2 linked regions of the Homo sapiens genome follow. The protein of the gene in region 2 purifies or fractionates together with the protein of the main gene of each other region. This does not show direct contact. Each region holds a gene or a part of one and is shown on either strand. Other genes may lie near its edges.

The links. The genes of interacting proteins can lie anywhere in the genome.
Region 1: the proteins of GMDS (region 2) and TTC38 fractionate together in Homo sapiens (co-fractionation; one large-scale study listed by BioGRID). This does not show direct contact.

Annotation. Positions count from the first base shown.
Region 1 is NC_000022.11:46,271,008-46,274,507, reverse strand, and holds part of TTC38 (tetratricopeptide repeat protein 38), read right to left. Parts: intron 2,174-3,500; coding exon 2,092-2,173; intron 611-2,091; coding exon 439-610; intron 1-438.
Region 2 is NC_000006.12:1,927,606-1,931,105, forward strand, and holds part of GMDS (GDP-mannose 4,6 dehydratase), read right to left. Parts: intron 2,626-3,500; coding exon 2,498-2,625; intron 1-2,497. UniProt on the Homo sapiens protein: Catalyzes the conversion of GDP-D-mannose to GDP-4-dehydro-6-deoxy-D-mannose.

The sequences.
Region 1 (3,500 bases), on a different chromosome or scaffold from region 2:
GGGAACCAGCATAGGAACAGCGGGGGGATGATGTGAAAGTCAGTGCAAGAGCAAGGAACTTATGGGTGAAGATTTGATTTGATTGTTTATTTCTCACTAGAAGAAGCATGTTTTCTTCTCTCTTCCCTAACCTAGTAATTTCTGTAGTGTGACCCTATTATTTTTGTAAGGAAAATAATATATAATTTACTTAATGAAACAAAGCAAGTTACTTTGGACACTAAGTTGGGAATCTTCACCAACTGCTTCCTCACTCAGCACTCCACCAAGAATAGGGAAGCAGACAGGATGCGATTTTCCATCAGAGCATCTCAGGAGGCAGGGAGAGAAGCATTCTCCCACCCCGCCCCCGTCCCAAGGGCATCAGGAAAGGGATACCCTGCCACTCCCCCAGCTCAGCCTCAGGGTGCCAGCTCCCAGCCCAGGGAGGCCCCTCACCCATTGGCAAATGTCTCTACTGCAGACACGTGCAGCTGCTCCCGCCTTGTCAGCGGCTGGGTTCTTGAAATCTCCACCATTGTCTTCACAGCCAGGTCCAGCTCTTTGTCCAGCTTCACGGAGCTTCCAGTGCCAATCAGCACAAGGCCAGTAGCCATGGCGTGGCCCATCACTGGTGGGAGGTTAGAGAACGGCTGGTGGTTCAGATGGTCCAGCTCAGCCCATCCCAGCCCAGACTCCACATGTCACAGAGACACCCCACGTCCCAGGAGGGGCCAGCCAGGCAGCAGCAGGCTGGGCACTGTGGCCCTGCCTACTGTCTAGAACTCAGCCTCGGCTCTTGTCAAGCATGGAGGGAACTGCAAGCCTAAAGGCACCCTTGAACATTTTTCTAGTGAGGGCATTCTGCTGAGTGCCAGTGTCTAAAGCACCTTCCCCCTTCAATGGATGAGCCACTTAGAGGCTGCCTGCAGGCTCATCAGCTGACACTACCGCCACAGCCAGCACACGGCTCCCGGGAGGCATCAGTGGATGCTGCTCATAAGGGGCTGGACCAAGGAGGCCCCGGAGCACAGAAGTCATGATCCCATCTGTGCTGCTCACACATGCTAAAAGTTAGGGTGGGGGTGAGTGCCTTGTGGCCCTCGCAGCAGCCTTGCTGGCAGGAGTGCAGGCCCCCAGGCCCCACTGTGGGAGAGCCAGGGTGTCCACTGGCATTTGGAACTTGGTCACTGGCTCAGGCCTGGGACCCAGGACCCAACCATAGTGTGCTAGGACCACCCATGTGGACCCTGGAAAACAGCTGGTGATTCCGATGGTCGAGCCCAGCCCAGCCCAGCTGATGATTCAGGTGGTCGAAGCCCCCTGATCAGGGCTCAAGGTCTGCTCAGAGAGTCCGAGCCCACCCCTGGCTCCTGGCTCCCCATGACTGGGTTTGGCTCCCCCGTTCTCCCCCAGTTATTTCCTTGTTTGTCTTCTCCAGGGCAGTACAAGTCCCCTGCCTTAAGTCTGACTAGGCTGCAGCAGGGTGAGAAGGGTGTCCCTGCCGCACTGACAAGAGCCCTGTCCCCTCATCAGACCTTCTCCCAGGCCCGGAACCTTGCCGCACCACGGGACCACCCACCTGCAATGCACTGTGCTGGCTTCCCCATGCCCGCTGTACACATGGCTTGCCTGGATGCCAGCCTCTGTCACCACCTCACCCTGGCCACTCTGGATGAGGCCTCACTGGTCCCCTGACGGAGGCTGCAGCAGCCACCTCTCATGTTCCAGGGGTCTGGGCCTTGGATTCAGGAAGCTTTATCTAATCCCAGGGGTCAACCACCAGCTGGGTGGCTTTAAGTACAGTCTTACTCTTGCCAACCCTCAGTTTCCTCATCTGAGAAATGAGATCAGCATCTTCATTCCCGAATTGATGGTAATTAAAGAAAAGATGAGAAAAATGCCTTCTGATAGAACCTGGCATCTTTATGGGAGTGACTGTTTTTCCAGACACAAAGGCAGCTGTCATCTTCTCTCCCTCTGTGCAAATGCCACCCTGGTTGCTGCCACCCAACCTGCCTTCCCCATCCCAACTGTGTCCCTGTGGTAAAGGAAAGAGAGGGGCTGGATGTGTGAAGCGGGGCTCCTCCACCCAGGGAAGGCGTTACTCACCAAAGGTTGGATCTGCTGCTTTGAGCTTTGACAGGCAGCCCTCGATGCCACCGAGACTCTTGTCATTGGTCCATTTTACATACTGAAATGGGAAAAGCAAAACAAGTCCTCACGGAGCCCTTGGATCATTCTAACAAAGGTGGCTCTAAATCCAGGTTTACACTTTGGGAGGCCGAGGCGGGCAGAACATCTGAGGTCAGGAGTTCGAGACCAGCCTGACCAACACGGTAAAACCCCATCTCTACTAAAAATAGAAAAATTAGTGGGGCGTGGTGGTGCATGCCTGTAGTCCCAGCCACTTGGTAGGCAGAGGCATGAGAATCACTTGAACCCGGGGGCTGAGGTTGCAATGAGCCAAGATTGTGCCACTGCACTCCAGCCTGGATGGCAGAGAGAGACTGTCTCAAAAAACAAAAAATAAAAATAAATCCAGATTTGTTTTTCTTTGTAGAACACTGAGTATTTTCTGGACTCTAACCCAAAGAAGGCATAACCTGGCTGATAACTTTCTTCATACGAAGAAATGAAATACACATCACCCAAGGCACACTTTCTAGGGCTAGGGATGCTGCATTTCCAAAAAAGAAACATCAAAAGGCAGGTTCTGGCTGGGCGCGATGGCTCACGCCTGTAATCCCAGTACTTTGGAAGACTGAGGCGGGTGGATCACTTGAGGGCAGGAGTTTGAGACCAGCCTGGCCAACATGGCAAAACTCTGTCTCTACAAATAATACAAAAATTAGTCAGGCGTGGTGGCACATGTCTGTAGTCCTAGCAACTTGGGCGGCTGAGACTTGGGTGGCTGAGACAGGAGAATCGCCTGAACCTGGGAGGTAGAGGTTGCAGTGAGCTGAGATCGTGCCACTGCACCCCAGCCTGGGTGACAGAGAAAAGGAAAAAAAAAGGCCAGGTGTGGTGGCTCATGCCTGTAAGCCCAGCACTTTGGGAGGCCGAGGTGGGCGGATCATGAGGTCAGGAGATCGAGACCATCCTGGCTAACACGGTGAAACCCCCGTCTCTACTAAAGATACAAAAAATCAGCCGGGTGTGGTGGTGGGCGCCTGTAATCCCAGCTACTCGGGAGGCTGAGGCAGGAGAATGGCGTGAACCCAGGCGCCACTGCACTCCAGCCTGGGCGACAGAGTGAGACTCTGTCTCAAAAAAGAAAAAAAAGAAAAAAGAAAAGAAAGAAAAGGCAGGTTCCTCCTGACAGGTGACCTGCTCCACATCGGCTTCTTCTGCCCTAAGAGGAGCCCTGAAGTTGGTCACGATAGGAATATTCCTGCTTCTTATTCATTCGTTTTAAAAATATTCACAGAAAACATTTATTTTAGAGAGTTAGAAAGACACAAAAGCTGAAAGATAAAACTTACCCAAAGCTCATTTTATCATTTTTTTTTTAATTGAGA
Region 2 (3,500 bases):
AGATGTGGACTACACTCGCAGCAGCGCTAGCTTGGCATTTGGGAAGTGTTGTGCCCAGATGTGGACTACACTCACAGTGGAGCTAGCTTGGCATTTGGGAAGTGAGATGACAGCAGCGTCCTTCTTTCAGATCTACTCGTTGACACAAGACTTCCTCCTTACTTACTTAACACTCTCATTCATTTTCATGAGACTTTTTGGCCTGTTTCTGAAATGTCACCTCCTACCCCGGCCAATTACAAAGGTTTACACATGTTCATTTAAAATCTATGGAAAATAAAGACAGTATAAAGAAGAAAATAAACACAACCTGTAAAAAGCACTATCAACATTATGGTATACTGTTTCCCTCACTATCAAAATCTATTAGATTTCCGAATCCTTTTTCACCTACGTGCAAAATAATAAAATTGAATGAAATTTAATCGATTTGGTTCCTTGAACTTGGAGAAGAGTTTGGATAAATAATACCTATATAGGGCCAGGTGCAGTGGCTCAAGCCTGTAATCCCGGCACTTTGGGAGGCCAAGGTGGGTGGATCATGAGGTCAACAGATGGAGACCATCCTGGTCAACACAGTGAAACCCCGTCTCTACTAAAAATATAAAAATTAGCTGGGCGTCGTGGTACGCGCCTGTAGTCCCAGCTACTCATGAGTCTGAGGCAGGAGAATCGCTTGAACCCGGGAGGCAGAGGTTGCAGTGAGCCAAGATTGTGCCACTGCATTCCAGACTGGCAACAGAGCGAGACTCTGCCTTAAGAAAAAAAAAAAAAAGAATACCTATAGCTTACTATGTAGCTCTATGCAGATGCTGATGGCTAGAAGGCTAAACAATAAATAGATATTATTGAGAAAATAATGTATTTTTACATAACAAGCCTCATATTTTTCAGTAGGTAAGGTCATTTAGGTTAGACAAAAGAAAGTTTTGGCTTCTCTTGCCAGTATCTACTTTCTCATAATTTCTAAGCGTGAACCTATATATTTTTTGATGTGATGTTCTGAAAATAAATCTAAGGATTAATGTCATAAAATGCTTCTTTGTAATTATAGCTTAGAAGCACATATTTAAAAGATTTAGGCTGGGCACGGTGGCTCATCCCTGTAATCCCAGCACTTTGGGAGGCTAAGGCGGGTGGATCACCTGAGGTCAGGAGTTTGAGACCCGCCTGGTCAAAATGGTGAAACCCCATCTCTGCTAAAAAAACAAAAATTAGTCGGGTGTGGTGGCGCATGCCTATAGTCCCACCTACGCAGGAGGCTGAGGCAGGAGAATCGCTTGAACCTGGGAGGCCGAGGTTGTAGTGAGGCGAAATCATGCCACTGCACTCTAGCCTGAGCAACAGAGAGAGACTCTGTCTCAAAAATAAATAAATAAATAAATAAATAAATAAATAGATCTAAATGTTGCACTATTCAAAATCTAAAGTCAAAGCTAATTATTTTGTGCATAACAGAAATCAGTATTAGCTGTTCAAACACACACACATTTTTTATTGTTATGACCAAAAACAAGATGGCAGGTGAGCCTCATCTCTGCACTAGCAAACAAACTAATTGTTTGCTTTCTTTTGTAGGCATTAAAGTTTCTTTTTGAATTGCATAAATGAACAAGAAAGCTGGGTCCAGTTTCCTAGAGAGACATCATTCAGGACAGAAATAGGCTCATGAGCACAGGAAATCTGTGAGCACTTGAACAAGGACAGGCTACTCCAGGGAAAGGACAATGTCTCTACCATGCTTGCTCATGTCTGACCACAGAACCAACATGGATATTTAAAAGCAGGGAGATCAGGGCAAAGTAAAAGGTAACCATTTGTTTATAAAAGAAAAATCATACTACTTGCGTATGTAATATATGCAAACCCAAAACAGCATGTCTAGGAATGCCAAGAATGAAAATCTGAATTTCCCTTTAACAATATCCATTATTTCACAATAGAATCATTATTAACATCTTTCTCTATCTCTCTTTAATAGGTAAAGCTCAACGACATGCAATATAACATGTTAAGAAGTGTGTGATGTAATAACCAGACTCTTCAGCAGCAGAAAGCAGAGTTCCATAAGAATATTACTCTTGGCGGGACTTAGTAGAATAATGTAAGTCCAAGAATCTTGAATTATATACATTGAAATGAGGCAGTATTTCTAGAAGATCTGAGAACTAGTACTTTTATACCCCCAAAATAAAGAGGAGCACCATTCAAACACTTTTTCCATCTATCTATCCATCATCCAGCACAAATAATTGGAAGAGTATTTGTGAAAGTTTTCCTCATTCAAGTACCATTCAGTGTAAGCTACCTGTACGTCTGAACCACCAATCCCTGAACGACTGATCCCTGAAGTGAAAGCAGCATGAGTGTAAACATACCTGCCTTGGCAAAGGTTTGTATGCCCCCACCTCTAGGTCACACTTTTTCACTGTACGCTTGGCATTTAGAATATCAATGGATACGGGTATTTTCAAGAATGTAATGTGTCAGTTCCTACCTCCACATAGTCCTTGGCATGGCCCCAATCTCGTTTGGCATCCAGATTTCCCAAACTGAAACATTCCAGTTGTCCAAGGTAAATCTTAGCTACTGACCGGCTAATTTTTCGAGTAACGAAATTAGCTCCTAAAAAGAGGCAAAAGATGTAGTATCAGTCAAGTGCACTTGACACATTTAACAGTTTGGTGAACCAAACCCGATTTCGGCCTCTGGGCATTTCTTTCATTCTACACTCCCAGCCACCCTGTTAAAACAATAAAAGAAAAGAAAAAGAGAAAAGATCATTAACTGTCATTTAGACAAGTTAAGAAGCCCTAATTCCATGTGTCACATCAGCTCTACTTTCAGAACAAACGTTTTTCTTTGGGGGACATCTTAACATTCCTAATTTGTTGCTTCAATATGCAACCCAGGCATTAGGCCAAAGAAAAGCTGTTGGAATGCCAGTTTTTAAACAGAAAATTCAAAAGGGTTGTATAAAGGGAAATGCCAGAATGGACGACAGACATCTAAGACCACCCTGATTTTTTTTAAGAACACAAACATCATATATTCCTATTAATAAAGCTACTTTGGGACTCATGGGGAGAGAAAGAAACATAGCTTAGTTCACAGGGTAACTAGTTAAAGGAAACAAGAAAGGAATTTATTTAGGCTGCCTTTCTCTTAACAAAATAAGTGGTGATGGCTCTTATTTAGAAACCTGCACAGCCATCCAAATGATATGATATGGCCCCTGGGCAAAAGTTTCTCTGTACTATACTTAAGGCAATGCCACTTTCCAAATTCATTTCAGTGTTATTTACAGAAAGGGCTCCTAAATTTTGTGTAATATTTTGAAATGATTGGTTGAAAGGGGCCATATCTTGATGAAAGCACTGAAATTGTTTTAATGTTCTCTGGTCTTTAATGAAAACTCTATCTGCTTTTTCAAAGATCACAAAGTTAAAAGGCACTTCTGAGACAGTTTTACCTTGTTATCTAGGTAAGGTTATGAGAAA